Regions from separate parts of the Homo sapiens genome. Here regions 1 and 2 are each linked to region 3. Evidence: fine-mapped expression QTL. A gene starts in region 3. Each other region holds a variant in brackets. All regions are shown on one strand. Distances are between the middles of the regions.

Region 1 (10,101 bases), 550 kb after region 3:
GCCAGAAAAGACAGTTTTATCCTTCTATGTGTAGAACAAATTCTGGCTTATAAAAGCAAACTATTACTCAAAGTCTTGGTCTCCCCCAGGGTAAAAAGCATTCATCATGTGACAAGCTACAAAAACAAGAAGGGGCCAGGCGTGGTGGCTCACCCCTGTAATCCCAGCACTTTGGGAGGCCGAGGCGGGTGGATCACGAGGTCAAGAGATCGAGACCATCCTGGCCAACACGGTGAAACCCCATCTCTACTAAAAATACAAAAATTAGCTGGGCATGGTGGCATGCGCCTGTAGTCCCAGTTACTCGGGAGGCTGAGGCAGGAGAATCTCTTGAACCCGGGAGGCAGAGGTTGCAGTGAGCCGAGATTGTGGCCACTGCACCCCAGCCTAGCGAAAGAGAGCGAGTCCGTCTCAGGGAAAAAAAGAAAAAAACAAGAAGGGTTGTGATAGGAGCTTTGATGTAAAAGCTGGGTAGCAAATTAGGGAACAGGAAAAAAAAAAAAGTTAATAAATGTTACCAGTACTAAAATTTGTTTTAAAGATAAAATGTTTGAATATTTGTATGCAGCAAGCATGTTGTTTCCAAAAATATCCTTAAGGGAGCATAGAAACACACCCGCTTCCAATCCCTCAATGTGGCCACTCCAGACATCTGCCTAACACCATGCCTCTTGATGGCCACCTCCCCTACCTCTTTACAGGACAGCTACATAGGGCCTATGTGGCTCACCCCTCTTGTTCCCCGACCCCACAAGTACTAGATGAATATGCTACAGTGACCATGTCTCAATCACAGCGTGACCCCCACAAAGCTTGTGCCTGCTCCCTTTAAACCCATCAATTAGAACTATTGGCTTCGGTAACATAATAGCCCTAGGAAACCCACTTGGGAAACTCCCTGGACTCCCAATAAAGGTTTTGGCCCAGGATTCTCTCTCTCTCCTCTCTGGGATCAGTAAGTAATAAAAATACTTCTGCTATTTCATGTGTCTTGCTGTGCTGCTCTGTGTCTCACCTGACCAATGCATTCAAACCTATTTTCCTGGGCAGGGCTAGAATCTATAGCCACTCTCAAGAGAGAGACCTTAGGACCAAATTAGAATTGACATTTGCAAAAGAGCCAGGAATACCAGGAGGTGGGGAATCACTGGGGGTCATCTTAGAGGCTACCTCCCCCAAGCACTATTAAAAGAATAAACTAGGCTGGGCGTGGTGGCTCACACCTGTAATCCCAGCACTTTGGGAGGCCAAGACGGGTGGATCACCTGAGGTCACGAGTTCAAGTCCAGCCTGGCTAACACGGCAAAACCCCATCTCTACTAACAATACAAAAATTAGCCGGGCATGGTGGCGCAAGCCTGTAATCCTGGCTACTTGGGAGGCTGAGGCAGGAGAATCACTTGAACCCAGGAGATGGAAGTTGCAGTGAGCCGATATCACGCCACTGCACTCTAGCCTGGGCAACAAGAGCGAAACTCTGTCTCCAAAAAACAAGAATCAACTTTAGTGTAAGATGTTAAAATAGCTGTATGACAAATGTTAAATCAAGATTTTAAAAAAACGGTGAAGCAAATTCAGTCCCATTGCTCATTAATAATAATTTTTTAGAAACAAAAAAATTTTGTACCAGTAACGCATTTTTTAAAGTTTTAAATATTTACAATGCAATTTATTTCATCTTCATTTTCATTTTATGAATGCTTTATAATATACGGTATTATACAGTATATATTATATAATATAAAGTATCTTAATAGCACATACTAATGTGCGTACATCTGATATACATATAAACATACATACGATACACACATATTTGTTTGCTCACAAAATTCTAATAAGGGTACATGACCTTTTTTAAAATGAAGACTGTTACTCTATATAATGGGAACCACCAGAGAGTTTTGAGCTACTGAACCCCAAACTTAGATTTGCACTTTAGAATAAAGGCTCTTTATTACCAAATTTACCAAATTACCAAGTTTACCAAATTACCAAAGTTACCAAAGCATTATTTGGTAGTGCCTAGCACAGAGAAAGCCCTCAATGGCAGCAACAGGTAGGGAATATGTGACGAAACCTGGAGTCTAGCTAAGATGGGTTATTTAAGCACGGCCCATCATCTGTAAATCTAGTAATGGCCTCCAGTTTTCCCAATGCACTTCAGGAGAGGTGGAAGTGCTTTTGTTGAAATGGGTCTCAACTTCTAGCCAATGGAGAAAAAGCTTTAAATGTAGTCATCATCAGTACATCTCAGAAGTATGTGGGTAAGGGCATTGACCTGGATTAATCACCGAAAAGCTACGTGTGCATCTCACGTGACTCACTGCTGAGCATAATCCCCAAAATGGCATCCACCACAGTTAGGGCACACAAGTGGCAAAAAGTACCAGTACTCCTCACAGACAGCCATCCTTTGAGTTCAGCCAAAACCAGGGGCAACCAGAGAACATACATGACTCGGTGGGCTGACGACTGAGCCTCGCACCACAACAAAGGACTAGGTCTGTGGAGCAAAAGGTCACAAGGCTAGGTTCCCTTCTCTTCCCAACTGCTCTGTAAAGGGCACCCAGGCCCTGTCTGAGAAGGTCTGGGCCAGGGACACCACAGCCACCATGGCACTGATCTGTTAAGGGGCAGGAAGCTGTGGCACTCACCAATCCCAACCAGCTCACTTTACCCCTTTTTCCAGGCCCTCATCCAATTTCCTTTTCAGTACGTTGTTCTTATCTTGCTCCTGTTTTTCTCTACACTAGGTTGGAAATGCTTGAGGACAGGTATGGTCTCACCCCTTCTGTACAACCCAAAGGTCTTGGTCAAAATCAGTCACTCTGGCATGGTAACTGGTATACCAGTGCGGTAACTGTTACTCCGGCATGGTAACTGGTATACCAGTGTGGTAACTGTTACTCCAGCATGGTAACTGGTATTATCAGTGCAGTAACTGTTACTCCGGCATGGTAACTGGTATACCAGTGCTGTAACTGTTACTCTGGCATGGTAACTGGTGCATCAGTGCGGTAACTGTTACTCTGGGATGGTAACTAGTATATCAGTGTGGTAACTGTTACTCTGGCATGGTAGCTGGTATACCAGTGCTATAATTGTTACTCTGGCATGGTAACTGGTGCATCAGTGCGGTAACTGTTACTCCGGCATGGTAACTGGTATATCAGTGTGGTAACTGTTACTCCGGCATGGTAGCTGGTATACCAGTGCTGTAACTGTTACTCTGGCATGGTAACTGGTGCATCAGTGCCGTAACTGTTACTCCGGCATGGTAACTGGTATTCCTGCTCCTCTCCCTCGACCATGGGTCTGCTGTGGCATTTGTGGGTGCCAGGCAGCACCATGACTAGCACTCACACATAACAATGCAGCCAGTCCCTTAGTCTAGGAACTCTGTACCTCAACACGGAGAAGTGGCAAACCTCCAGGACCCTTCTAGCCCTTTGACTAAAGGATATCCCAGGAGCAGGGATGTGGCTCCTTAGTCTATGTACCTGTGGCCATTCATTGCTATATAATAATCATTTGTGATCCTACTGTCTGAACATGGAGTCACTCGTGTTAGATGGCATTAAGCCCACCATGCAGCTGTTTACTCCTCACAGTGATAAGTGAAGGCCAGCTGCAGTGACTCACACCTGTAATTCCAATACTTTGTGAGGCCGAGGTAGGAGGATCCCTTGAGGCCACCAGGAGTTCAACAGAGTGAGACCCTTCTCTACAAAAAAAAAAAAAAAAAAAAAAATCTGGGTGTGGTGGTGCACACCTGTAGTCCTATCTACTCAAGAGACCGAGGTGGGAGGATCCCTTCAGCCTAGGAATTACAGGCTGAAGTGAGCGATGATCGTGCCACTGCAATTCAACCTGGGTGACAGAGCAAGACCTTGACTCAAAAGAAAAGCAAACAAAGAATGATAAGCACATGTGTACTAGCCTGGCAACTGAGATCATAGTAAAATTGTTTTTCTTCGAAGTGATAAACATACGTCTAATAGAATAAGGTGGTGAGATAATAACACCTGCTGTGGCATAGTACCACCACCGATGGAAAAATGGAGCCAAGAGCTGGCTGAGACCATGATACTGGGCAGACCTTTGGAGAATCATACACACAGCAAGGAGCTGATGATGTCTGGGGCGCCTTTGGAATCTTTGCCCATGAGAACTCTGAGGCCTCCTCCTAGCATGACAATTGCCGCCCAGCGGCTCTCCAGGAGAGGAACAGCCACTCCTCACTTACTAGCATCCAAGGGACTTCCAACCCACTTGAGGGTCCATCAGTGCTCTGACCTTCTGAGCCATCCCTGTGGTTCATTGTCCCCCTAATTACAGCCTTTAATAACCACATTGTGAATGTTTGATTGATTGTGTGTGTGTGAATCTCTCAATAAATGGCGAATCTGAGCATTGCTAATTGGCCACTGAATCACTGTGAAACATTCCCACTTCAGTGGAAGTTGGCATGCAGGGCAGTGACCTGATTAAAATAACATTTAATATTAACATAATATTAATTACATAATTCATTATTAATTTACTGGAAACTCCTCAGCAAGCCAATTTAAACAAAAAACTTTGATTCAATTAAAGGATCATAACTTAGCAACTCTTCTGATTCACTTTAACATTGTGACTACACATTTTTTATTGTTATTTTTTATTTTCTGTAGAGATGCGGTCTCCCTATGTTGGGGTCTCCCTATGTTGGAGGCTGGTCTCAAACTCCTGAGCTCAAGTAATCTTCTCACCTCAGCCTCCCAAAGTGCTGAAATTGCAGCGTGAGCCACTGCATCCAGTCATGATTATACATTATTACAAAGCAATGATGTGGACTTACCAGTACCCACAGAAGTCATACCATGGTTGGATCAACTTATAAAATCCATACAGTAATTATGAGTTCCTGATGTGGAAGCAATAGAACCCAAATGCACCCTGAAAAATGGTCTTAGGGCACCTACTTTTAATTAGGATAACTTTCATTTGAATAGGGGTTAAAGTATCATTGATCATGCTGATTGAATTTCAAATAGCTTTCTGAATCAATTTTCCTTGATTGAATAATTTACAAAAATGTATGTTGTTTTTATAATAAATAATAAAGCTTAAAAATTTTTTTTACATTTATATTTCCTGAAGGTTTTTCTCCATTGTAACCATATCTCAATTAAACTTTTTTAAAAAGCCTTCAAAAAAAAAAA[AT/T]CAGGAAGGACTATGCATTTAGATTGACAATGATTGTGAATAAGACAGTGCTGAGGATGCTACGAACTAAACATCACATCATGTCTCACTCAAGGTAACACAGAGCTACAAAGGCAGCTTACCACTAACAAACAACATAAGCACTGCTTGCCTAAAAAGACACATATCGGGCCAGGCACAGTGTTTCACGCCTGTAATCCCAGCACTTTGGGAAGCTGAGGCAGGTGGATCACTTGAGGTCAGGAGTGCAAGACCAGCCTGGCCAACATAGTGAAACCACGTCTCTACTAAAAAAAATACAAAAATTAGCCGGGCATGGTGGCACGCGCCTGTAGCGGGTGGCTCCCCGCTACTCTGGAGGCTGAGACAGGAGAATTGTTTGAACGAGGGAGGTGGGGGTTGCCGTGAATCGAGATCGCACCACTGCACTCCAGCCTGGGCGACAGAGCAAGACCCTGTCTCAAAAGAAAAAGACACATAACACACAGAAGGATACATCTGAGGGAAAAAATGTTTTCTCCTTATATCCTCTAAACAATAAATTTGTTTTGAATGGGGAGGGAATAACTACAGTAAGTTCTCACTTAATGTCATTGATAGGTTCTTGGAAACTGGGGCTTTGAGCAAAATGACATATAACAAAACCAATTTTCCATGATTTGTCCATCAATCAGCAAGGTAATTGATATAAACAAGAGTTAAGTTCCACGAGGACACTGGAGAATGTGTAAATTCCAAATAGACAGTAGCTCCAGCAGGGAATTGATTTTTTTTTCTCATCAACATGATAATGAAACAATAGTGAATGAAAGGCCATTATCTGGGGACCTGCTGTATTACCATCACTCATGTCATGTTTTAATATTTTTGTGTGTTCTTCTTCATGCACACAAACTATCTCATTCCAGCAACTACCTGTAATGAGCTTTTCAAGAAATATAAACTCCGGATTGCTAGTAAGTTCTTAGTTTTCATTTCTTCCTTATTGTTCTGAATATTAAATATTAAAAGTTATTCGACTACTGCCTGGAACTTAGTAAGCATGCAACCCAAGTTACCTGTTACTACTATTGGTCTAAATAAGGAAAGACAATTAAAATACAAACACTAGCATGACATTTCTTTCCCCCTTGTGCAATGTTCTGATTGTATCTTTGCATTGAGACTACAATTTCCTTGGTCTCGGGTCTTATCTTTTGGTTTTTCTCCTAATAGACCACCATTCCTCAAGAAAGGACACTGCAGTGGCTCATGCCTGTAATCCCAGCACTTTGGGAGGTGGAGGTGGGCGGATCACGAGGTCAGGAGTTTGAGACCAGCCTAACCAATATGGTGAAACCCTATCTCTATTAAAAACGCAAAAAATTAGCTGGGTGTGGCGGTGCACATCTGTAATCCCAGCTAGTTGGTAGGCTGAGGCAGGAGAATATCTTGAACCTGGGAGGTGGAGGTTGCAGTGAGCCGAGATTGTGCCACTGCACTCCGGCCTAGACAACAGAGTGAGACTCTGTCTCAAAAAAAAAAAAAAAAAGACACTGTTCTGAGACAGAGGCTGTTTTAACACACAGGCAAAGGGGGCAAACAGTAGGCACAAGCAGATGCCAAGGAAGACACTGGAACTGAGCAGATGCCTCAACATGACTTTTTCACTAGTCTCAGCCCTGTTAGCACCAAGAACCAGCTCGGTGCTCAGCAGGCTTTAAACTCTGCTTGTGGCTTCCCTGAAACGTAGTCTGGACCAAACATAAAAGCTCCTTAAACCTGAGGTACTGGGTTCTTTAAACATGTCCAGGTGGCTGGGTGTGGTGGCTCACACCTGTAATCCTAGCACTTTGGGAGGCCAAGGCGGGTGGATCATCTGAGGTCAGGAGTTCGAGACCAGCCTGGCCAACATGGTGAAACCCCCATCTCTACAAAAGATACAAAAATTAGCTGGGTGTGGTAGTGCACACGTGTAGTCCCAGCTATTTGGGAGGCTGAGGCAGGAGAATCACTTAAACTCGGGAGGTGGAGGTTACAGTGAGCTGAGATGACGCCACTGCACTCCAGCCTGGGAGACAGAGTGAGACTTCATCTCAAAATAAATACATAAATAAAATAAATTTTTTTTTAAATTTTAAAACTGAAAACATTTTTTGAAAAAGAAGATGCCTGCACACCTCCTTATGGTCAGAGTGTCCTCCCTATTTCAACAGTCGTTTTCCCCTCCTTGCAAAAATCCTTTTCAATAAAGTCTCTCCTTACTAAAAAACTAAAACAAAACAAAAAAACTGATACTTAGGCCTCTCCCCAGACCAATTAAATTAACCCCTGGGGGTAGACCTGGAAACAGTCTTTTCAAGCTCCTGAAAAGCACCTACTCAGCAGGTCCTCTGGAGCTTGGAATAGGGCAGTTCCTTGTGACATGCTTGGGCAGTGAAGGGGCATAGACAGGGTACTGGATTCTATATAGGCAATCAACTAGGCCCTACATAGTTTCCTATTTAAATATCTGCCACACAAAGAACCTGATGAGATGGTTCACAGAAAGATAAGTATGTATCTCCCCTAAACATGTTAAAAACGTTCAACCGGCCGGGCACAGTGGCTCACGCCTGTAATCCCAGCACTTTGGGAGGCCGAGGTGGGCAGATCACCTGAGATCGGAAGTTTGAGACCAGCCTGACCAACATGGAGAAACCCCGTCTCTACTAAAAATACAAAATTAGCCGGGTGTGGTGGCACATGCCTGTAATCCCAGCTACTTGGGAGGCTGAGGCAGAAGAATTGCTTGAACCTAGGAGGCGGAGGTTGCGGTGGGGCCGAGATCACACTACTGCACTCCAGCCTGGACAACAAGAGCGAAACTTCGTCTCAAAAAACAAAACAAAACAAAACAATGTTCAACCTCACTCACAGAAGACCTACCATTTAAAACCATACTAAAATACTATTTCTTAGATATCAGATTGGAAAAAGTCCCAAAGCTTGACAATACACTCTCTTAGCTAGGCTTTGGGGATGAAGGCAACCTCTGTATTACCAGCGATGGGACTGTAAACTAGAATGATGTCTACGGAAGAAAATGTGGAAATATCTACCAATATAGATCTCTATTACTCTATATTAATACAGGCCAGGTGTGGTGGCTCATGCCTATAATCCCAACACTCTGGAAGGCCAAGGAGGCACTTGAGCCCAGGAGTTTAAGACCAGCCTGGGCAACATGGCAAAACCCCATCTCTACAAAAAATACAAAAAACAGCCAGGCATAGTGGTATACATTTATAGTTCCAGCTACTAGAGAGGCTGAGGCAGGAGTATCACTTGAGCCCCGAGGACTGAAGCTGCAGTGAGCCGAGGTCATGCCACTGCACTCCAGCCTGCATAACAGAGCCAGACCCTGTCTTAAAAAAAAAAAATATATATATATATATATATATATATATGCACACACATGCATACACACACATATACACACACATATATATACACACAGACATACGCAAAATGGTAGCTATCTACCAAGTAGAATCCATCTACTAACAGAAATGACAAACGCATGTACCCTTAAACCCAGTGCCCCGACTTTTAGGAATCTCTCCCACAGCTATAACGTTACCCCTGAAGCACTGTTTATCATATCTAAAGACTGGAAACACTCCAAAAGTCCAGAAAGGGAACTGGTTGGAAAACCAATGATACTTCCAAGATAGTGGAATTCAATGCAGCCATAAAAAGAAGGAAGATATACATATTCCAATATGGGGAGATCCTGAGGATCTATTAAGGGAAAAACAAAAAAGAAGGTACAGAACGGTATATACTGTATGCTATCTTTTGTGTAATAAATATATATTTGCTTGTATTTGCAAAAAAGAACACTGGAAGGATAAAAAAAAAAAACCACACACAAAAAATTTTCCAGAGGAGTAGGAGAAGGAAAAGGACAGAGTGGCAGAGGTGCAAGCAAGCTTCTGAAAATACATGTTTGTTCTGTAGCTTTGTAGTTTAAATTAGAAAATGTATTATCTATTCAAAAGTGTTCAATTTAGGCCTAGCACAGTGGCTCATACCTGTATTCCCAGCACTTTGGGAGGCTGAGGCAGGCTGATCACCTGAGGTCAGGAGTTCAAGACCAGCCTGGCCAACATGGTGAAACCCCATCGCTACTAAAAATACAAAAATTAGCCAGATGTGGTGGCAGGTGCCTGTAATCCCAGTTACTCAAAAGGCTGAGGCAGGAGAATCGCTTGAACCCAGGCGGCGGAGGTTGCGGTAAGCCAAGATCATGCCATTGCACTCCAGCCTGGGCAACAGAGCAAGGTTGTATCTCAAAAAAACACAACAAAAAAAGTTCAATTTAATTTTAAAATAAATCGTAAAACTGCCACAAAGCTTGTAGGACAATGTATAAATTTTTTAAATTATAAATAATTTTATAATTATAAAATTTCATAACAGCATAAAATTATAAATCATAAAAGCATACATAAGGTATGTTTGTTACACACCGCCATTCCAAAACACTCAACTACCAAAGGGTAAGAATATTCAATAGAGGCTGGGCGCAGTGGCTCACACTTGTAATTGCACCGCTTTGGGAGGCTGAGGCGGGTAGATCACTTGAGGCCAGGAATTCAAGACCAACCTAGCCAATATGGCTAAACTCTGTCTCTACTAAAAATACAAAAATTAGCCAGGCTTGGTGGCACACGCCTGTGATCCCAGCTACTCGGGAGGCTGAGGCAGGAGAATTGCCTGAACCTGGGAGGCAGAGATTGCAGTGAGCCAAGATCATGCCAGTGCACTCCAGCCTGGGTGACGGAGTGAGACCCTGTCTCAAAAAAAAAAAAAAAAGAAGATTCAGGCCAGGCGCAGTGGCTCACACCTGTAATCCCAGCACTTTGG
Region 2 (10,101 bases), 45 kb before region 3:
AACCATAAAAACCCTAGAAGAAAACCTAGGCAATACCATTCAGGACATAGGCATGGGCAAGGACTTCATGACTAAAACACCAAAAGCAATGGCAACAAAAGCCAAAATAGACAAATGGGATCTAATTAAACTAAACAGCTTCTGCACAGCAAAAGAAATTACTATCAGAGTGAACCTACAGAATGGGAGAAAATTTTTGCAATCTACCCATCAGACAAAGGGCTAATATCCAGAATCTACAAAGAAACAAATTTACAAGAAAAAAAATCAAACAACCGCATCAAAAAGTGGGCAAAGGATATGAACAACCACTTCTCAAAAGAAGACATTTATGCAGCCAACAGACACATGAAAAGATGCTCATCATCACTGGCCATCAGAGAAATGCAAATCAAAACCACAGTGAGATACCATCTCACACCAGTTAGAATGGTGATCATTAAAAAGTCAGGAAACAACAGGTGCTGGAGAGGATGTGGAGAAATAGGAACACTTTTACACTGTTGGTGGGAGTGTAAACTAGTTCAACCATTGTGGAAGACAGTGTGGTGATTCCTCTAGGATCTAGAACTAGAAATACCATTTGACCCAGCGATCCCATTACTGGGTATACACCCAAAGGATTATAAATCATGCTAATATAAAGACACATACACACGTATGTTTATTGCGGCACTATTCACAATAGCCAAGACTTGGAACCAACCCAAATGTCCATCAGTGATAGACTGGATTAAGAAAATGTGGCATGTATACATCATGGAATACTATGCAGCCATAAAAAGGATGAGTTCATGTCCTTTGCAGGGACATGGATGAAGCTGGAAACCATCATTCTGAGCAAACTATCGCAAGGACAGAAAACCAAACACTGCATGTTCTCACTCACAGGTGGGAAGTGAACAATGAGAACACTTGGACGCAGGATGGGAAACATCACACACTGGGGCCTGTTGTGGGGTGGGGGGAGGGGGGAGAGATAGCATTAGGAGAAATACCTAATGTAAATGATGAGTTAATGGGTGCAGCAAACCAACATGCCACATGCATACACATGTAACAAACCTGCATGTTGTGCACGTGTACCCTAGAACTTAAAGTATAATTTAAAAAATAAAATAAAAATAAATAAATAAATAAAGTGTTAAAAAAAGAAAGAAATATCAACATGAACTTATGAATTTGGGGGTAGCCTTCCTGTCTTTGGCACACTGGAAGAGCTGTGGCGTAGTTTCTCAGGGCTACGGTAACAAAATGTCACAAACTGGTGGCTTAGAACACAGAAATGTTCTGCCCCAAATTTCTGGAGGCTTGAGGTCCAAAGTGAGGGGGTGGAAAGGGCCACGCTGTGTCTGAAGGTGCTGGGAATCCTCCCTCCCAGGCCTCTCTGCAGCCTCGGCCACGCTGCGTCTGAAGGTGCTGGGAATCCTTCTGCCCAGGCCTCTCTCCAGCCTCCAGCAGCCTCCAGTGTTCCTTGGAGTGTGGCGGAGTCACTCCTGTCCTCCCTCTTCACAGCCTGTCTTCTCCCTGTGTCTTTTTTTTTTTTTTTGAGACAGAGCTCTGTCACCCAGGCTGGAGTGCAGTTGTGCAATCACAGCTCACTGTAACCTCCGCCTCCCAGGTTCAAGCAATTCTCCTGCCTCAGCCTCCCAAGTAGCTGGGATTACAGGCATTCACCACCATGCCTGGCTAATTTTTGTATTTAGTAGAGATGGAGTTTCACCATGTTGTCCAGGCTGGGCTCGAACTCCTGGGCTCAGGTGATCCACCCATCTCAGCCTCCCAAAGTGCTGGGATTACAGGCGTGAGCCACTGCGCCCGGCCTTCTCTCTGCGTGTTAATGTTGCTTTCCCTCTTTCCTTCTGCATGTCTTCTCTGTGTGGCCATTTCTCCTTTCTATTTTTTATTTATTTATTTATTTTGAGACAGAGTCTTGCTCTGTTGCCCAAGCTAGAGTGCAGGGGCATGATCTTGGCTCACTGCAACCTCTGCCTCCCAGGTTCAAGTGATTCTTCTGCCTCAGCTTCCCAAGTAGCTGGGATTATAGGCATGCACCACCATGCCTGGCGAATTTTTATATTTTTAGTAGAGACGAGATTTCACCATGTTGGCCAGGCTGGTCTCGAACTCCTGACCTCAAGTGATCCACTTGCCTTGGCCTCCCAAAGTGCTGGGATTACAGGCATGAGCCAATACGCCTGCCCCCCTCCTTTTGATTTTAATTTCATATTTTTGAGATGGAGTCTTACTCTGTGGCCCAGGCTGGAGTGCAGTGGTGTGATCCTAGCTCACTGCAGCCTCAAACTTCTGGGCTGAAGTGATCCTCCTGCCTCAGCCTTCGGAGTGTCTGGGACCATGGCATGTGGTGCCACCACACCCGGCTAGTTTTATGTTGTTATTGAGACAGAGTCTTCCTATGTTGCTCAGGCTGATCTCAAACTCCTGGGCTCCTCCCACTTCAGCCTCCTAAAGTGTTGGGATTACAGGCGTGAGCCACTGCACCGGGCCACATTTCCCCTTTTTATAAGGACACCGGTCATATTGGATTAGGGTCTCACCCCCCGATGACCGCATCTTAACCCGGTTACCTCGGTAAAGACCACATGAGGTCACATTCTGAGGGACTGGAGGTTAGAACATCAGCATATTTTTTTGGGGACGCACAATTCACCCCTTAACAGCCTGTAAGCAAAGACAACTTGGTAGCAGCGAGCACAGCAAGCTCTCAGATCCTGGGGCATTTGCTGCTGGCCTTCCTCAGGTCAAAAGATCTGATGCTGCCCCTACTCCACTCACACATCCAGCTGAGGCCCAGGGGTTGCAAAAGCCTGGACTGGAGGGTGTGAGGACCTTTCACGAACGCCGCCTACCCTGAGCTAGCTGGGGGTCCCTGTGCATTACGCAGTCAGGCTGGAGCCCTGGCCCCAGCGGCAGGTGTCAGATTAGAGAAAGAGGGGCTGTAGCTAGGCCAGCTCCCTCATGTTGCAGATGAGGAAACTGAGCTCAGGGGATGTGGGCTGATCTTGGACCACAGAGGATGTTAGTGTTGGGGCCGCACTGGGATCAGGTCTTCCGAGCTCTCCCACCCCTCTCTGCCACCCGCAGCTTGGACACTCCTTGCTCTGGGAGGCCTCCATGGCCACCTGGGCCAGGGCCCTTCATTACGCATCCTACTGCACTGATCGTGACACACAGCCCCTCTCCCCTCATCTCCTCCGGCCCCCATCGCTCCGCGCTGACCCCACTGACCTCTCGCTCTTCCTTGAACTGGCACAGGCCTTCGCTGGCCTCCCAGGTCTCTGCAAAGATCTCTCCCTCACTGCTTCGGGTATTTCCTCAAAGGTGGGCTCCCTGGCCATCGCATCTCAAACACAAGCCTCCTGCTGGCTCTTCCTAGTTCCTCTCCGTAGCTCTTACCACCGGAAAGTTTTGTGATCCTGTTTACAGAGGAGGACTCTGGAGCTCAGGGAGGGTGTGGCTTGTGCAGGCCACTGAGAGGGCAGGACCAGGACCCAGACTTGACTGTCACATTGATGCCCAAACCAGGCAGTGCTGCCCTTTGAGCCTCCAAAGGGAAGGGAATGGGTCTCATTCTCTTTGTCCTCCTTCGCCGTACCATGCTGGTGCATATGTAATAAGGGCCATGAATTTAACTTGATCAGAAAGGGCACATTTTGGACTCCAACTTGGGATAGGAAAGCTCCCTGGCCACCTGAGTTGGATGCCCCTGCAATGACCACCTTTTCCCACTAGAGGGCGCTGTAGGACAGAAACTCAGCCGAGAGTGGCCCTGACAGCCGGGTCCATTGAGACCAGCCTGGACAGCCAGGGCTCCCAAGGCTCGCCCTTCAGGACAGCTGCCTCACTGGGTCCTTATAGCAAAACCAGAAATGAAGTACCATTACCATCCCCACTTTACACATTAAGAAATCGAGGACCAGCCTGGCCAACATGGTGAAACCCCGTCTCTACTAAAAATAGAGAGAAACCCCATCTCTACTTGGAAGGCTGAGGCATAAGAATCACTTGAACCTGGGAGGCGGATGTTGCAGTGAGCCAAGATCGAGCCACTATACTCCAGCCTGGGCGACAGAGTAAGACTCTGTCTCAAAAAAAAAAAAAAAAAAAAAAAGGCCAGGCACGGGTGGCTCACGCCTGTAATCCCAGCACTCTGGGAGGCCGAGGCAGGCAGATCACGAGGTCAGGAGATCGAGACCATCCTGGCTAACACAGTGAAACCCCATCTCTACTAACAAATACAAAAAATTAGCCGGGTGTGGTGGTGGATGCCTGTAGTCCCAGCTACTCGGGAGGCTGAGGCAGGAGAATGGCGTGAATCCGGGAGGCGGAGCTTGCAGTGAGCCGAAATCGTGCCACCCACTGCACTCCAGCCTGGGCGACAGAGCGAGAGTCTGTCTCAAAAAAAAAAAAAAAAAAAAAAAGAAAGGAAAGAAAAGAAAAAAGAAACCAAGGCTCAGGCCGAGCAGTGTGTGGCTCATGCCTGTAGTCCCAGCACTTTGGGAGGCTGAGGCCAGAGGATGGCTTCAGCACAGGAGTTGAGGCCAGCCTCGGCAACATGGTGAGACCCCCGTGTCTACAAAAACAAATACAAATGTTAGCTGGGTGTGGTGGCACAGGCCTATAGTCGCAGCTACTCAGGAGGCTGATGTGGGAGGATTGCTTGAGCCCAGGAGGTCAAGGCTGCAGTGAGCTATGATTGTGCCACTGTGTTCCAGCCTGGGTGACAGAATGACACCTTGTTTCAAAAAGAAAGAGAGAGAGAGAGAGAGAGGGAGGGAGGGAGGGAAGAAGGAGAAAAGAAAAGAAAAGAAAAGAAGGAAGGAAGGAAGGAACCAAGGCTTAGTGTTGATAAGGGATTTGTCCCAAGTGAGCACCTTAGAAATGGGAGAACCAGGGCTGCAACTCAGCTCCCATCCCAAACCCACACTGTTGGCTGCTCAAACCCCTTCCCTCTCCCAGGCTGCTTGGCTCTGTCTTTCCTCCTGGATCCCTTCTAGGAAGGGTCCCTTCAGCTCGGTGAGATTTGCCCAATATGCTCAGCAGTGGGTTGGGGGGCTCCCCCACATTAATTTGTTCTGGGAGACTCTGGGCTGTGGGGCTGCTAGGGGGCACCTGGAGAAGGAGTAGGGGTGGGGCTGTGTTGCCATGGGGAGGGGGATCCGGGCCGCAGGGCTGGGAGTCCTTCTGTTCCAGCCCCTGGCAGAGCCGGCCCCCTGGGAACCGGCCAGGCTTATTAATATCCTGCTGAGTCAGGGGGC[G/T]CTTGAGTTTCGGCATCACAAGACCCAGAGGCTGAGCACTGCAGGGATATTCTTAACTCCCCAGGCACCCTCTCCCTCCCACCGGCCCTGCCCACCCCTGGCTGGGGCCTTGCAGGCCTGAGTTGCCACGTGGCCTGGGGTAAAGCACTTCCCCGGACTGTGAAATGGAGACAAGAACTGTCCTGCCCCGGCTGTAATTAGACAGTGTTCCTAAACGGTTTGATGTATGCGAAGGGCTAAGAAGCAAGAGCTGTCCTGGAAAATGCTTTTTTTTTTTTTTTTTTTTTTTTTTGAGACGGAATCTCGCTCTGTTGCCCAGGCTGGAGTGCAGGGGCGTGATCTCAGCTCACTGTGACCTCTGTCTCCAGAGTGCAAGCCATTCTTCTGCCTCAGCTGGAATTACAGGCGCCCACCACCACGCCCGGCTAATTTTTGTATTTTTAGTAAAGACGGGGTTTCACTATGTTGGCCAGGCTGTTCTCAAACTCCTGTCGTCAGGTGATCCTCCTGCCTCAGCCTCCCAAGTGCTGAAATTACAGGCATGAACCACCGCACCTGGCCTAGAAAATGCTTTTTTGAGGACCTGCTACACAGGGGCCCTGGCCTGGAGGCTGGGGTCCTACAGCAAGGGGTGGCGCAGCCCCTCTCTTACAGAGCTCACTGCCTGCACCCACAGGCCCCCGCCAGCAGCCTCAGCTGAGTGGGCTCGGCCAGGGCTGGACACAAGCTGGGCCTGGGTTTGAGCTCTCCTGGCCATTTGGAATCGGGTCTGGGAGACTCTGGTCACATGGGGTGGGCTCTGTCTAACTGGAAGAGAAACTGGACTTGGGGTGAGGGATCCATGAGGGGCAGCCATGATAGCAGAGGGGGCTGGTCTGCAGAGGATGGAATGAGGCACATGCACAAAAGCCCGGGGCCCCAGGAGAGAGGCTCCCCTGCTCCCAGCTCTGCCCCTTGCACCCTCTTCCCAGCCCAGGTTCCAGGAAGCTGCCCTGTGTCCTCAGACACTGCCCTCATGGCTACTCCCAACCCACACAGCCCTGCAGAGGCAGGTGGAGGGGAGAGCACTTCTTCATCTCCGGGCCCTTGGGATTCCAGCAGTCATGGTTTTTGTGTTTTTTTGTTTTTGTTTTTGTTTTTGAGACAGGGTCTTGCTCTGTTGCCTAGTCTTGTCTTGAACTCCTGGGCTCAAGGGATCCTTCCTCGTTGGCCTCCCAAAGCACTGGGAGCCAGTGTCATGGTTTAAAAACCGTTTACAGGGCTAGGTGTGGTGGCTCACGCCTGTAATCCCGGCACTTTGGGAGGCCGAGGCGGACAGATCACGAGGTCAGGAGATTGAGATCATCCTGGTTAACACAGTGAAACCCCATCTCTACTAAAAATACAAAAAATCAGCTGGGCGTGGTGGCACATGCCTGTAATCCCAGCTAGTGTCTTTCTCTGTCACCCAAGCTGGAGTGCACTAGTTGGGAGGCTGAGGCAGGAGAATCGCTTAAACCTGGGAGGCAGAGGTTACAGTGAGCCGAGACTGCACCACTGCACTCCAGCCTGGGCGACAGAGTGAGACTCTCTCAAAAACAAAAACAAAAACAAAAACAAAACAAAAAAAACCACATTTACATGCCGGGTGTGGTGGCTTGTGCCTATAATCCCAGGACTTTGGAAGGCCGAGGTAGGTGAATCACTTGAGGTCAGGAGTTCGAGACCAGCCAGTCCAACATGGTGAAACCCTGTCTCTACTAAAAATACAAAAATAAGTTGGGCATGCTGGTGGGGGCCTGTAATCTCAGCTACTTGGGAGGCTAAGGCAGGAGAATCACTTGAACCCAGCAGGTGGAAGTTGCAGTGAGCTGAGATCACACCACCACACTCCAGCTTGGGTGACAGAGAAAGACACTATCTAAAAAAAACAAAAACAAAACATTTACTGAGGGCTTACCAGTCCCCAAGCCCATTTTGCGTGCAATATGTGTGCCATCTCCCCAAACCCTCATGAGGTGCCTTTGAGGTAGGTACTTGGTTCTCCTCTTTTTTTTTTTAGATGGAGTTTCACTCTTGTTGCCCAGGCTGGAGTTCAGTGGGCTCACTGCAACCTCCGCCTCCCGGGTTCAAGCGCTTCTCCTGCCTCAGCCTCCCAAGTAGCTGACACTACAGGAGGCTGCCACCACGCCCGGCTAATTTTTGTATTTTTAGTAGAGATGGGGTTTTACCATGTTGGCCAGGCTGGTCTCAAACTCCTGACCTCAGGTGATCCGCCCACCTCGGCCTCCCAGAGTGCTGGGATTACAGGCGTGAGTCACTGCGCCCGGCTGGCCGGTTCTCCTCATTTTACAGATGAGGAAATGGAGTCTTACACGGTAAGTCAAAGCCACTAAGTAATGGAGCTATGCCTCGAATCTGGGCCTGGCTGATATCTGAGCCCTGATTCTTAACCTTCATTCTAGACTCATTCATTCAGTGTGACATCTGTAGATTTGTCGACACAATTAATGGGTGAATAAAATAACTTCAGGCTGGGCGCACTGGCTTATGCCTGTAATCCCAGTACTTTGGGAGGCTGAGGTGGGAGGATCACTTAAGCCCAGGAGTTTGAGACCAGCCTGGGTAGGTGAGACCCCCCTGTCTCTATAAAAAATTAATAAATTAGTCAGGCATGGTGGTGCATGCCTATAGTTCCAGCTACCCTGGAGGCTGAGGCAGGAGGATCGCTTGAGCCCAGGAAGTAGAGGCTGTAGTGAGCCATGATTGTGTCACTGCACTCCTGCCTGGGTGACAGAGTGAGATCCTGTCTGAAAAACAAAACAAAACAAAACAAAACAAAACAAAAAAAACCAACTTTGTACCTAGCAAATTCCTCTTTTCATGTCCTTGACCCCAGGGGCCCTTACACTGTGAGCCCCTGGGGACAGTGACTGGGTCTCCCTCCCCTCACTCCCACCCCCATGCACACACAGGGTCCGCCCAAGGCTGTGCTCCCTGCACAATTTTTTTTTTGAGATGGAGTCTCGCTCTGTCGCCAGGCTGGAGTGCAATGGTGCGATCTCACCTCACTGCAACCTCTGCCTCCCGGGTTCAAGCAATTCTCCTGCCTCAGCCTCCCAAGTAGCTGGGACTACAGGCGTGCACCACCACACCTAGCTACTTTTTGTATTTTTAGTAGAGATGGGGTTTCACTATGTTGGCCAGGCTGGTCTTGAACTCCTGACCTCAGGTGATCCACCCACCTCAGCCTCCCAAAGTGCTGAGATTACAGGCATGAGCCACTGTGCCCAGCCCGCTCCCTGCACATTTGATGGATTCCAGGGTACTCTGTGAACACTGACCCCTCTTCAAATCCTGCCCACAGCTTGTCAAATGGGGCCTCAGCGCAGAAGGCCAGCAGGGCCCTTATCAGTCAGCCCCACATGTGTCTGAGAGCCCACAGCAGGCAGCCCATTCTATGCCAAGCCCCTCACGAGCCCCGTTATCAAGGGACACATTCCAGCCAGGCCTCCCTTGTAAGGAGGGGAAGAGAAAGCCTGCCGCTTTCCGGCCAAGTGGGGAGGGGGCGCAGGGGCAGGAAGAGGATTATCACAGCAGGAAGGCCAGATGCTGGACTTGTTTCTTCAGGCAGCTTGAGAAAACACCACTGGGCTGGCTTGGCCGCCCTCAGGCCTAGAATGTGACCCTTCTCAGGAGGGGACCCCCTCCCTGCACTGCTGGGGTGAGGGTAGGTGGGGACAGGGACAACTGGTTCTTAGGAAGCCAAGAGAGCTCGTGTTTGCTCCCAGGAGCCTGGATGTGGCTGGTGAAGGTGGCTGGGGGTTTAGCCAGAGGCTGGAGGATTCTTCTGGGGAGGGTCTCAAAGCACCTTCCCCCGTGTGGCCTGCTCTCCCCAGGCTCAGCCAGCACCTGCCACGGGGGAGGACTCCAGCTGGTGAAAGAATAAACGAGCCAGAATGCAGGCCTGAAGGCTCAGGCTTTCTTTTTTTTTTTTGAGATGGAATCTCGCTCGTCACCAGGCTGGAGTGAAGTGGTGTGATCTCGGCTCACTGCAACCTCCGCCTCCCGGGTTCAAGCGATTCTCCTGCCTCAGCCTTCCGAGTAGCTGGGACTACAGGCGCGCACCACCATGCTTGGCTAATTTTTGTATTTTTAGTAGAGACAGGGTTTCACCATGTTGGCCAGGATGGTCTCGATCTCCTGACCTCGTGATCCACCCGCCTCGGCCTCCCAAAGTGCTGAGATTACAGGTGTGAGCCACTACTCAGCCTGGGTTTTCTTATTTTGTAGAAAATCCATTTCCCTCGTGCAATACTTGATGAGTCAGGCTTGATAGTGGGTGGTTGAGGATTTGGAGACACAAATCAGGTGGCTGGGTTGGATGTTGGAAAAGTCAGTAAGCTTTGCTGAGTCTCAATTTTCTCATCCTTAATGATAGATATTGGAAGCTCTTTCTTCATGTGGCAGTGTGTGTCAAGGGCTTAGTATAGAGCTGGCCCTGGTGGGTACTGCTGAAACTCTCTCTGTGGGCCACATACACGCACACGCACACACACACACAGTCACACTCACACATACACACACTTAGCACTAATTAAACAGCAGGTGGCCAGGCATGGTGCCTCATGCCTGTAATCCCAGCACTTTGGGAGGCCGAGGTGGGCGGATTGCTTGAGCTCAGGAGTTCGAGACCTTCCCTGAAAACCCCATCTCTACCAAAAATACAAAAAATTAGCCAGGCACGGTGGCGCATGTCTGTGGTCCCAGCTACTCTGGAGGCTGAGGTTGGAGGATCACTTGAGCTCAGGAGATGGAGGTTGCAGTGAGCCGAGATTGCATC
Region 3 (10,101 bases):
TAGCCAGTCGTGGTGGCGGGCACCTGTAATCCCAGCTACTCGGGAGGGTGAGGCAGGAGAATCACTTGAACCAGGGAGGCAGAGGTTGCTGTGAGCCAAGATCACAGCACTGCAGTCCAGCCTGGGTGACAGAGCGAGACTCCGTCTCAAAAAAAAAAAAGTAGTTTTCATATTCAGGAAAATCTCAATAAAGATACTTTTTTTTTAGACAGAGTCTCACTCTGTCGCCCAGGCTGGAGTGCAGTGGTGCGATCTCAGCTCACTGCAAGCTCCGCCTCCCGGGTTCATGCCAGTGAGCCAAGATCACACCACTGCACTCCAGCCTGGAGACAGAGTGAGATTCCGTCTCAAAGGAAAAAAAAAAGATACTTTTATAGGCCAGCACAGTGGCTCAAGCCTGTAATCCCAGCACTTTGGGAGGCCAAGGTGGGTGGATCACCTCACGCCTATAATCCCAGCAGTTTGGGAGGCCGAGGTGGGTGGATTACCTGAGGTCAGGAGTTCGAGACCAGCCTGGCCAACATAACGAAACCATGTTGGAGAATTGCTTGAACCCGGGAGGCGGAGGTTGCAGTGAGCCAAGATCTTATCACTGCACTCCAGCCAGGGCAACAGAGACAGACTGTGTCTCAAAAACAAACAAACAAACAAACAAACAAACAAACAAAAAGATACTTTCATAAAGGACATAGATCAAGGAACAAGACCAGAGGCATTTCCCACCACAGGACAGGCCCATGAGGAAACAAGGATGGGCTTAGTGAACTGGGATGGGCCTGGTCACCTGTCACCTGTCACCTGGCTCCCTTCGGATCATCAAGCTGGGTGCTGCTCGGGAGGGAGAAGGGGACAGGTGGTCTCAAGGCATCTAGAGCTTGGAAGGTACCTGGCAGGAGGCTGGTCCTGGACTTCTGACAATGATGACGGTGATAATGATGATGATAATCATTGCTACTTAACCGTTAACCAACATCAGTAAGTGCCAAGCACTTCATGTGTGATTCATCAGGGAGATTTCCCAACAACCCACCTGACAGATGAAGAAACTGAGGCTCAGAGAGGCAAAGTCACTTGCCTGAGTTCCCACAGCAGGGCTGGGATTTGCACTCAGGTCCGGCTGCCTGTGGAGTCCAAACTTTTGCCTGCTGCTAAGACCCCTTCTGGCTCTGAGCTTTCTAGAGTCTTGACAGTGTGCACTAGGAGAGGGGCAAGCAGGGAGGGCATGGGACTGCTTGCCAAGCAGGGAGCATGCAGAGAACTTCCCCAGGCCCAGCAGGACCCTTCCTAGGCCTCGTAGCTGCAGCTCCCATTTCCCAAGCTCCCAAGTCTGCCTCTTCAGAGCCAAGTGGAACCCAGGTCCCAACTGCAAGCTCGGAGGTCTTGCTCCCAGCCCAGAGACTGCCCCTGGGGGTTAGCTGAGTGCCACGGGGCCAGAGCGGGTGGGCAGGGCTAGGTAGGGCTCCCTCCCCCTTCAGTATTGCAGTGATGTCACCGTGTGGCATGGCACCCACCATGCCAAATGCTTTGCCATCTCCCTTCACATCCCTGCCACATCCCCCTCAGCCCCCAGATAGGGAAACTGAGGCTCAGAGACAGGAACTGACTTGAGCATGTGCGTACAGCAAGTAAGGGTCAGAGCAGGGACCTGGACAATAGCCAGTCTCTCCCCAGAGCCTGTGCTCCAGGGTTGAAGGGTGCCCTCCAAAGACAAAAGGACAGATGGAACCTGCAGCGTGTGCTCAGTGGGCAGTCTGCTTTCCCCGGGGCAGGGGACTGTGGGACCTTCCTTCCTGGCAGGTCAGACCAGAGCTGCAGGATTAGAGCCTGCCTTGGCCATTTGCTGCAATTTTCTCCCACCAAGCCGAGGTCTGGGCTGGCATCCCCACAGAGTGACCTCGGGGTCCCCAGACCCACCCGGCCTGCTCTGTGGCCTATGCTGAATGCCTGACTTGTGCCAGGCCCTATGTCCCCATGGCCTCAACACCTGGATATGAAGACAGTCAACCTCCTCCCAGATCATTCCCCTCCGCAAAGCACACACGCTCCAGGAGTGCAGTGAACACGGGTGATATGCCCGACCTGCAGCCCCACGGTGAGCAGCGAGGAGTGGGGGGGTTTGCAGTCACGGGGCCTTGGATTTACTTCCTGAACCTACCGCTTATAGCTGTATGGTGGGCAAGTTGCTTGAGCTTTCTGAGCCTCAGTTTACTCATCTGTAAAATGGGCATATTAATATTTACCTTGAAAGGTCATCGACAGCTTTTTTACATCATAAAATACAGGCCGTTCATGCCATTGTCTTTGGTACATAATAAAGCTCAATACATGATGTTTTTAAAGATTTTTAAAAATGTCTATCACTTCTGTTCAAGGAGGAAGGCAACTCAAATCTTCATCTTTATCCTGTGGGGCAAACAGCTTTGTGCCCATGGCAGCTGGCTGCTGGAATGAGCCTGAAGCCTTATCTTAACAAGTAGGTTGCAAATTTTTCAATGTTTGGGGCAGGGGAAATGTTCTTAAAAGCAAACATTCCTGTAAAAAAAAAACAAAGCAGAGCTATTTTACTTGGTGATGTGAGGCAGCTTGCTTGCATACCTCCTACCACGGGGAGCTCACCCCCTTACTAGAGCATCCACTGACTGTGGGTAAGTTGAGATGCACCTCCTTTCTTCTCTGATCCTCCCCCTGCTGGAAGCTTCACACAGTCTGAGCTGGTTCCCTCTCCCTCTCCTCTGAAAACGCAAAGCAAAGCTAGAGTTGCTCCTGGTTCTGCTCCTGGCTCCATCACTGACTAGCTGCAGGACCTTAGAACCATCGTCACCCCATGCCTCAATTTCCCCCTCTTTAAATGGGGAATAATAACAGCACCAAGCTCCATGGGTTATGGTGAAGATCAGAAGTAATGATATGGTTTATGCAAAGCCCTGGAACACGGTAAGCACTCAACCAATGACATCTTCATCACCTCCCTTGTCACATGGGGAAAGAAGGTGGGAAGGAAGAGATGGGGTCAAGGGAGCAGGGTTGAGAGACAGACTGGAGTGTATGCCTTCCCACCCCATCTTCTGACAGCAGGCAACCTACCTCTCTAAATCCCAACAGTCTTCTTGAGCCACGTGGCCCTGTGTGAAACTGTGGATAATGAGAGCAGGTTCTGCCCCTGGAAGCGCCTGGCCTAGTGCCTCGGCCACTTTGCTCTGTCCCTCCCTCCCACGCCCATGGCACAGCACCTGGAAGAGCAGAGGCCTGTGTGTCAGCTGGAGCCAGTGCAAATCTCAAGCCCTGAGGCTGGGCCAGGTTGCTTTATTTATAGGAACCTCAGTTCCCTAATCTGTAAAATGGGCATGATAATGGCACCAACCTCGTGAGACTGTTTATTCAGGAGTAAATCATAAGTTATTGTAATGTAAATAATTTAGTAATAAGAACAAGAAAACTGGCCAGGCACGGTGGCTCATGCCTATAATCCCAGCACTTTGGGAGGCCAAGGCGGGTGGATCACCTGAGGTCAGGAGTTTGAGACCAGCCTGGCCAACATGGTGAAACCCCATCTCTACTAAAAATACAAAAATTAGCTGGGTGTGGTGGTGTGCGCTTGTAATCCCAGCTACTTGGGAGGCTGAGGTAGGAGAATTGCTTGAACCCGGGAGGCGGAGGTTGTAGTGAGCTGAAGGTTGTAGTGAGCCAAGATCGTGCCACTGCACTTCAGTCTTACAGCCTGGGTGACAGAGCGAGACTCTGTCAAAAAAAAAAAAAAAAAAAGGAACAAGAAAACCTCGAAGGTGGCAGACCCAGCCATCTCCTGCATGAAGTATCCAATGGTTTCTGCCTCCCCGAGTCCCACCCAGAGAGCATAGAGCCTCCAGACTGAGACTAGAGCAGGGAGATACGTGTTTTTATTGTAACTTCCTCTGGAACTGATGTTCTCCGTGGTCCAACCCAATGCCCTTTTGGAACTGAGACCCCTTGTTAATGTTTGCCTTGCCTGAGACCTCCACCTCACATGTCCCTCAAATGATGGCCACACCGGGAAAGACAAGGAAATCGATGCGGGCCTGGCGTGGAGGGTGGAAGCTTCCTGGGGCACCTTGGGGACCTGGTGGTGCCCGAAGGGTGGGCCGGACGGGGGCTGGGCATCACCTCTGGGTGGAGGGAATGGCTTGCCTCCACATGGGCCCCACGTGGCACCTGGCACAGGGCGGTGCTAATCTGCAAGACATTGGTGGCAAAGACTTTGCAAACAAACAAACCCACAACTGGCCCCCCGAACCCTTCTCCAGTGACTCCCCCTGGGAAGGAGCAGGGAAGAACTCCAGGGGGCTGTGAGTGGGTGGCAGTCCCAGGGGAACTCCCTGGGTCCCCAGACCCTGGGGAAGAAGCCTGGGCAGCTTTCCCGGTTCCTGAACCGAGGCGGGAGGTGCTCATGGGGCAGCTCACGGGAACAGCCTGGCTGGGAGCTGTCAAGGAGCGAGGACCTCAGCCGTGGGGCAGGAGTCAAACAGTGACACCCCATTCCAGGATGCCCACCAGAGCCCTGACCGTCTCCCTTGAGGCCACCGCCTCTGGCCCAGCCTCCCTTCAAGCTGCCTCTGGGCAGCGGTGCCTTTTGCTGAGCAGGTCCTTCTCACAGGGCCGCAATGGCCTCTGTCTTCATTTGGCATGTGGCAGGAGAGCCTCGTCTATGCATCCCTGGCTGTCGCTCCCCCACGCCGGAGCCTGCCTGTTTCTGGGGCACCCTTCCTGCCTAACCTCATTAGACCATCCCAGCCGGTTTCTGAGGGCTGTGCAGGTCCCGGCCAGGGTGGGGTTGGGCAGGCCAGGCTGCCTCCCGAGGGGCCTGACAGTGAGTGGCGGGCGGCAGGCACACTCACCCAGGAGCAGATTCATGAGCACCTCCTGGCCGGCCAGTGTGCTGCTCTTCACCAGGCAGAGGATGGTGCCTCCGATCCAGGGGATGCCGTGGCCCGTGATGCCGATGAGCTTGACCATGGAGCGGGCACTGGCCCAGGACGCCGCCCGGCCAGCGCACACCCCCAGCCGCTTGGACATACAGATATCGATGGCCAGCAGGGAGTTGAAGGCGATGCCCTTGAAGGAGGGGTTCAGCTGCATGCAGTCCTCCTCTGGCAGCTGCTGTGACTGGCGTCGCTCTCTGGCCCCGTCACCAGCAGGTGGGGGCTGTGCTGATGGGCCCGAGGCCTTTCTGCCCGAGCTGCGGGGCTCCGGGCCCCCCTTGGGGGGCTGGTTCAGGGACAGGAACTCAGCCCGGTTGAGGACGTTGTTGCGGTCCCGGGCACGGGCCCGGCTCTGGGAAGCTGGCATGGTGACCTCGCTCACCCCGAGAAGGCCGATGCCAGCCCGGCTCCAAGGGCCTTCTCCCCGAAGACAAGAGCTGCCCCCAGAGCCGCCACCGTGGCTGCCTCCCTGCCTTCTCCGCCGCAGCTGTTAAATATAGTGTGGAGAGTTGCACATGGCTGTTTATCTCCTCTGCCACCCAGCTCCAAGGGGACGTCAGTGCCAGCCGGGCAGCCAATCGAGCCCTCCAATGCGGGGCCTGCACCAGCAGAGCCTCCGGGAGGTGAGGAGTCCACAGCTGCGGCCTGGCTGCCTCGGGCCTGGGCTATTTAAATCGGCCAATGGCTCATCCCTGGGCTTGGGGGACTCTGGGAAATGTAGTCCTCCGGCTGCTCTGGACTCTGCAGTGGCCTTGGCCTCTGAAGGGGCAGAGGTGGGACCTGGGCTTACCCTGCTTTTACCAGCTTCCCTCTGAGCCGTCCAGACCCCTGCAAGTCAGGCCTGCCTGCCCCAGCTGCCGGGCAGCTTGGACCTGGTCCTGTAAACTGGACGGTGTTGCTTGGGCCGAGGCCTCTTTGGGCACCAGATGGAGTGAACGACGTCACTGACAGCATCATCTTGGGTCCCTGGGGCCAGGTCCAGCTCCTCCCTCTGTGACAGCATTCATTCAGCTGGCAGGTCTTTTTTTAAATCAGTCTTGAATTCAGCTTCAGTGCATCACAGTCCAATCAAACGACACTCCGTGAGCTCTGATTTCCACCGGAGGGAGGGGTCATGAGTTGGTTGGTAATGGATTGCCTCTTGGAGGTTGCCTCCACTACCTGGAACTTCGCAAAGGACGGGAGTGTGACAGCAGCTTCAGGCAACCCGTAAATAGTTTCCGAGCGCCTGGCAGTGTGTCAGTGCTGGGCGCACTGCGAAAAGCTCACAGCTCAGTGGGGATGGAAAGAAGGACACGTGTAAGTGGTCACAGGTGTGCAAATGTGTGGCAGGATCCTAGAAGCGGGGCTCTGGGGGCTCTGGGTCTGGTCTGGGAATCAGGGACGGCTGCCCCCAGGAAGGAAGAACAAAGGGGGAGTCCCATTCGGGGACAGCCTGCCTTGCAGGAGGCCCAGGAGGCCCGTGTGGCTGCATGGGGCCCAAGGGGACGAGAGGCTGCAAACCCAGAACGCAGACCCAGAGGGCCCAGCTGAGGATTCCGGATGTGAGGGAGGTATCCCTGCTCCCATCTGGACCACCTGTGGGAACCCGAAGTCTCCACAGCCCTTTTAGGGCTGATTGGGCCTGGGCTCGATGGGGGAAGCTGCCAATTTAAGCTGACCAGAAGAGTCAGAAGTGAGCTCCTCCGTCTCCTGATTCTCAGTGGCCAAGGCCTGTCTGCTCGCCCAGATGAAGGCAGGGGGCTGCAACTTCTCTTCCAACCATGGAGCCAGCCCACGGTGCCTCAGGCCCACCTAGAGCCTCCCAAGAACAGGAAGCTGCCCTGGGAGGGAGTGGGTGTTCCCTGGCCATGGGGGATGGGCACCCAGGCTCTGGAGTCAGACAGACGGGGCTCTGCCCCGCCATCAACCAGCTGGGAGACCTTGAGCAACTCACTTGGCCTCCCTGGGCCTTGGTGTTTCCACCTGTCGCATGGGAATGACAGTGTCCACCTCTTAGGGCTCTCGTGAGTCCGGGTGAGACAGTGTTTGTGAAACGCTGAGCTGAGTCCCTGCTGCAGAGTGAGTTAGGAATCAATTTCAGCCCTGTGGGTTAGTAATTGATTTCATTTGACAAACGAGGCACAGCCGTCTCTTCCTTTTGAGTGCCCGCTTCAGAAGGGCCCAACCCTGTGGTCTGGCCTCCACCCCTTTCCTGGCAGGGATGAGGCCAGAGTCCAGGAGCCTTCAGTCTGGGGTTCCCTGCAGACGCCCTGGCTGGGTCCAGCTGGGCTGGAGCAGGCTAGACCTGCCTCATTCCCCACTCTTCCTCTCCAGCGTGCTCCACTCAGACTGTGCGGCCATAGAGGGGATGTCGTGGCCGCGAGACGTCCTGCCATCTTGGGTGCAGCAATGATGACATGTGCTGCTTCATCCCGGACACTAGACGGCTGGAACCTGGCGCACATGGAAGTGTGCACGCCAGGCACGGATATTGAGCGTGTATAAGCTCTTTGTGTGCTGAGCTCTCTATGTGTTCAGCTTATCGACAAAGTCTAATGACAGTCCTGTAACGCAGCTGTGATATCCCCATTTACAGACGTGGAAGCTGAGGCTGAGTGGGTGAAGGCCTCGAGCCAGGAAGCTGAAAAGAGAAGGGGTCCGGCTCCTAAGTGGTCCCTATGGGGGGTGGCACGAGGGCCGCTGGACTCAGATCCCTGGACCACAGGGAACTGATCTGCTCATCTCCCCACCAAGCACTCACCCCATTCTCCCTGGGTGGCCTCAGGAGGGGCACAGGAGCCCGGCCCAGACAGGGGCTATTAATACCCAGAGGCTGTGTCAGCATTTCGTCTGGCTAGAGCTGCTGGCATGTTCTGAGAGCCACAATGGGCCTCACACTGTTGGGGCCATGGGGTCTGATTTGGCTCCTGCCCAGCAGTAGTTAAGACATAAAGTCTGGGGTAGGATGGCCCCAGGTTCAAACCCTGGCTCAGCCACCTCCAGAGTGACCCCAGGCAAATCCTTTCGCCATTCCAAGCCCGTTTTCCCCTTTGAGGGCTGGCAAGAAGATTGTGTGAAGGGCTCTTTCTGTCTGTGATGGTTTTGGTGGCTTCCTCCAGGACCCTGAGACCTGCTCCTCTCCCTTGTATGGTGGGGTGACACTGTTCACAGTCTCAGGTAGCTGGGAAGCAAGAGCAAGCAAGCTTGGTGGGCTAACCTGAACCACCTACTATAGCACCCAGATACAGGGAGGCAGGATGGGACCACAGACACTCCTGGTTGCCTCAACCCACAAGCCTTTATTTTTACTTTATTTTTTTAGAGACGAGGTCTCACTATATTGCCCAAGCTGGTCTCGAACTCCTGGGCTCAAGTGATCCTCCTGCCTCCTCCTCCCAAAGTGTTGGGATTACAGGCACGAGCCACTGTGCCTGGCCCCCACAAACCTTTATAAGCACCCAATATGGGCCGCACAATCCCACTTCCCAAGAGACTGAGAATTCATTCATTCATTCATCCATCCATTCATTCATTCAATGCTTTTATTGATCTCGTCCTCTCATTGATCTCGCAGTCTAGTTGGGGATACCAGGACACACATCCACAAAATAATTAGCCAATTTATAAAAGAGTATAATTTTACCAATAGCCTTATTTTTTCTTACTATCAAAGTGTTACATACTTACTGCAATAGATTCAACACACGCGGTTGATATAGGTTTCATCCTACCACCCAGTGTTAACGTGAGGGTGATCAGGATATAAACGGTTTCTCACTTGTCTCATTTCCAATTACTAAAATATTTTGCATCAACCAAGCATTACTTTATTAATTAGAAAATAATATATACTAAATAAGCTATATCTCTATATATCATATATATGCAACATACACAAAAATATGCATTTAAAAATTATTATTATTATTTTTTGAGACAAGGTCTCACTCTGTCACCCAGGCTGAAATGTAGTGGCATGATCTTGGCTCACTGCAATCCCTGTCTCCCGGGTTCAAGTGATTCTTATGCCTCAGCCTCCCGAGTAGCTGGGACTACAGGTGCATGCCACCACACCCAGCTAATTTTTGTATTTTTTGGTAGAGACAGGGTTTCAACCATGTTGGCCAGGCTGGTCTTGAACTCCTGACTTCAAGTGGTCTGCTGCCTTGGCCTCCTAAAGTGCTGGGATTACAGATGTAAGCCGCTGCGCCTGGCCCCAAAATATGCATTTTAAACATGTGATGACATTATACATTCTTCTGAAAAGCAACCTATCCTTTTCACTTAACAATATAAATCTGGCCATGTTTCCATGACACTCTATTATTTTTCAAAGGCTGCCTGGCATTTTGTCACATGGATGGGCCAGAATTTATGTAACCAATCCCCTGTTATTGGACATTTCATTGTTTCCATTGTGTAACTATTCAAAAACTACTCTAGGGTGGCTGTCCTTCTGCATATATCCCTGTGCTCTAAAGCAGGATAGAAACAAGTAGTCAAGGCCGGGCGCAGTGGCTCACGCCTGTAATCCCAGCACTTTGGGAGGCCGAGGCGGGTGGATCATCTGAGGTCAGGAGTTCAGGACCAGCCTGACCAACATGGTGAATCCTGGTCTCTACTAAAAATACAAAATTAGCTGGGTGTGGTGGCTAACGCCTGTAATCCCAGCTACTTGGGAGGCTGAGGCATGAGAATTGCTTGAACTCAGGAGGCAGAGGTTGCAGTGAGCCAAGATGGCACCAGTGCATTCTAGCCTGGGCGACAAGAGCGAAACTCCGTCTCAAAAAAAGAAAAGGCCGGGCCAGTGGTTCACGCCTGTAATCTCAGCACTTTGGGAGGCCGAGGCAGGTGGATCAGGACTTTGAGACCAGCCTGGCCAATGTGGTGAAACCCCGTCTCTACTAAAAATTCAAAAATCAGCAGGGCTTGGTGGCGTGCACCTGTAATCTCAGCTACTCAGGAGGCTGAGGCAGGAGAATCGCTTGAACCCGGGAGGCAAAGGTTGCAGTGAGCCAAGATCGCGTCATTGTACTCCAGCGCCTGGATGACAAGAGCGAAACTCCGTCTCAATTAAAAAAAAAAAAGAAAAAGAAAAAAGAAACAAGTAGTCAAGGTGGGGTGGCTGGGACCATGCTGGGAGGGATCCCCATGGGATCTGGTG

Alleles and levels. Alleles are on the strand shown, and positions count from the first base shown. SD is a standard deviation of normalised expression in the study named. Not every link is listed here.
For the expression in prefrontal cortex of the gene that starts at base 5,597 in region 3, allele AT in region 1 goes with a higher level than allele T (large effect, 0.80 SD a copy in ROSMAP).

The links. PIP is the estimated chance that this variant, and not a neighbour inherited with it, causes the effect.
Region 1: its variant is fine-mapped to the expression of PLPP7 in prefrontal cortex (ROSMAP, PIP 0.95).
Region 2: its variant is fine-mapped to the expression of PLPP7 in left ventricle (GTEx, PIP 0.92).

What each region holds. Positions count from the first base shown.
Region 1 is chr9:130,734,473-130,744,573 of GRCh38, reverse strand. It overlaps a transcript of ABL1 not described here. Among named protein-coding and RNA genes, the nearest start is that of EXOSC2, 46 kb to the right of the region's middle. The variant AT/T (reference allele first, on the strand shown) is at 5,211.
Region 2 is chr9:131,330,080-131,340,180 of GRCh38, reverse strand. The region is part of intron 1 of LOC105376299 (a long non-coding RNA gene); the gene reads right to left. Among named protein-coding and RNA genes, the nearest start is that of PLPP7, 45 kb to the right of the region's middle. RefSeq lists an enhancer at 9,100-10,054. The variant G/T (reference allele first, on the strand shown) is at 5,280.
Region 3 is chr9:131,285,219-131,295,319 of GRCh38, reverse strand. It overlaps PLPP7 (phospholipid phosphatase 7 (inactive)), which reads right to left and starts at 5,597. Exons shown (of 2, transcript NM_032728.4): 1 at 4,872-5,597. The coding sequence starts at 5,322. RefSeq lists enhancers at 5,711-5,830, 6,409-7,324.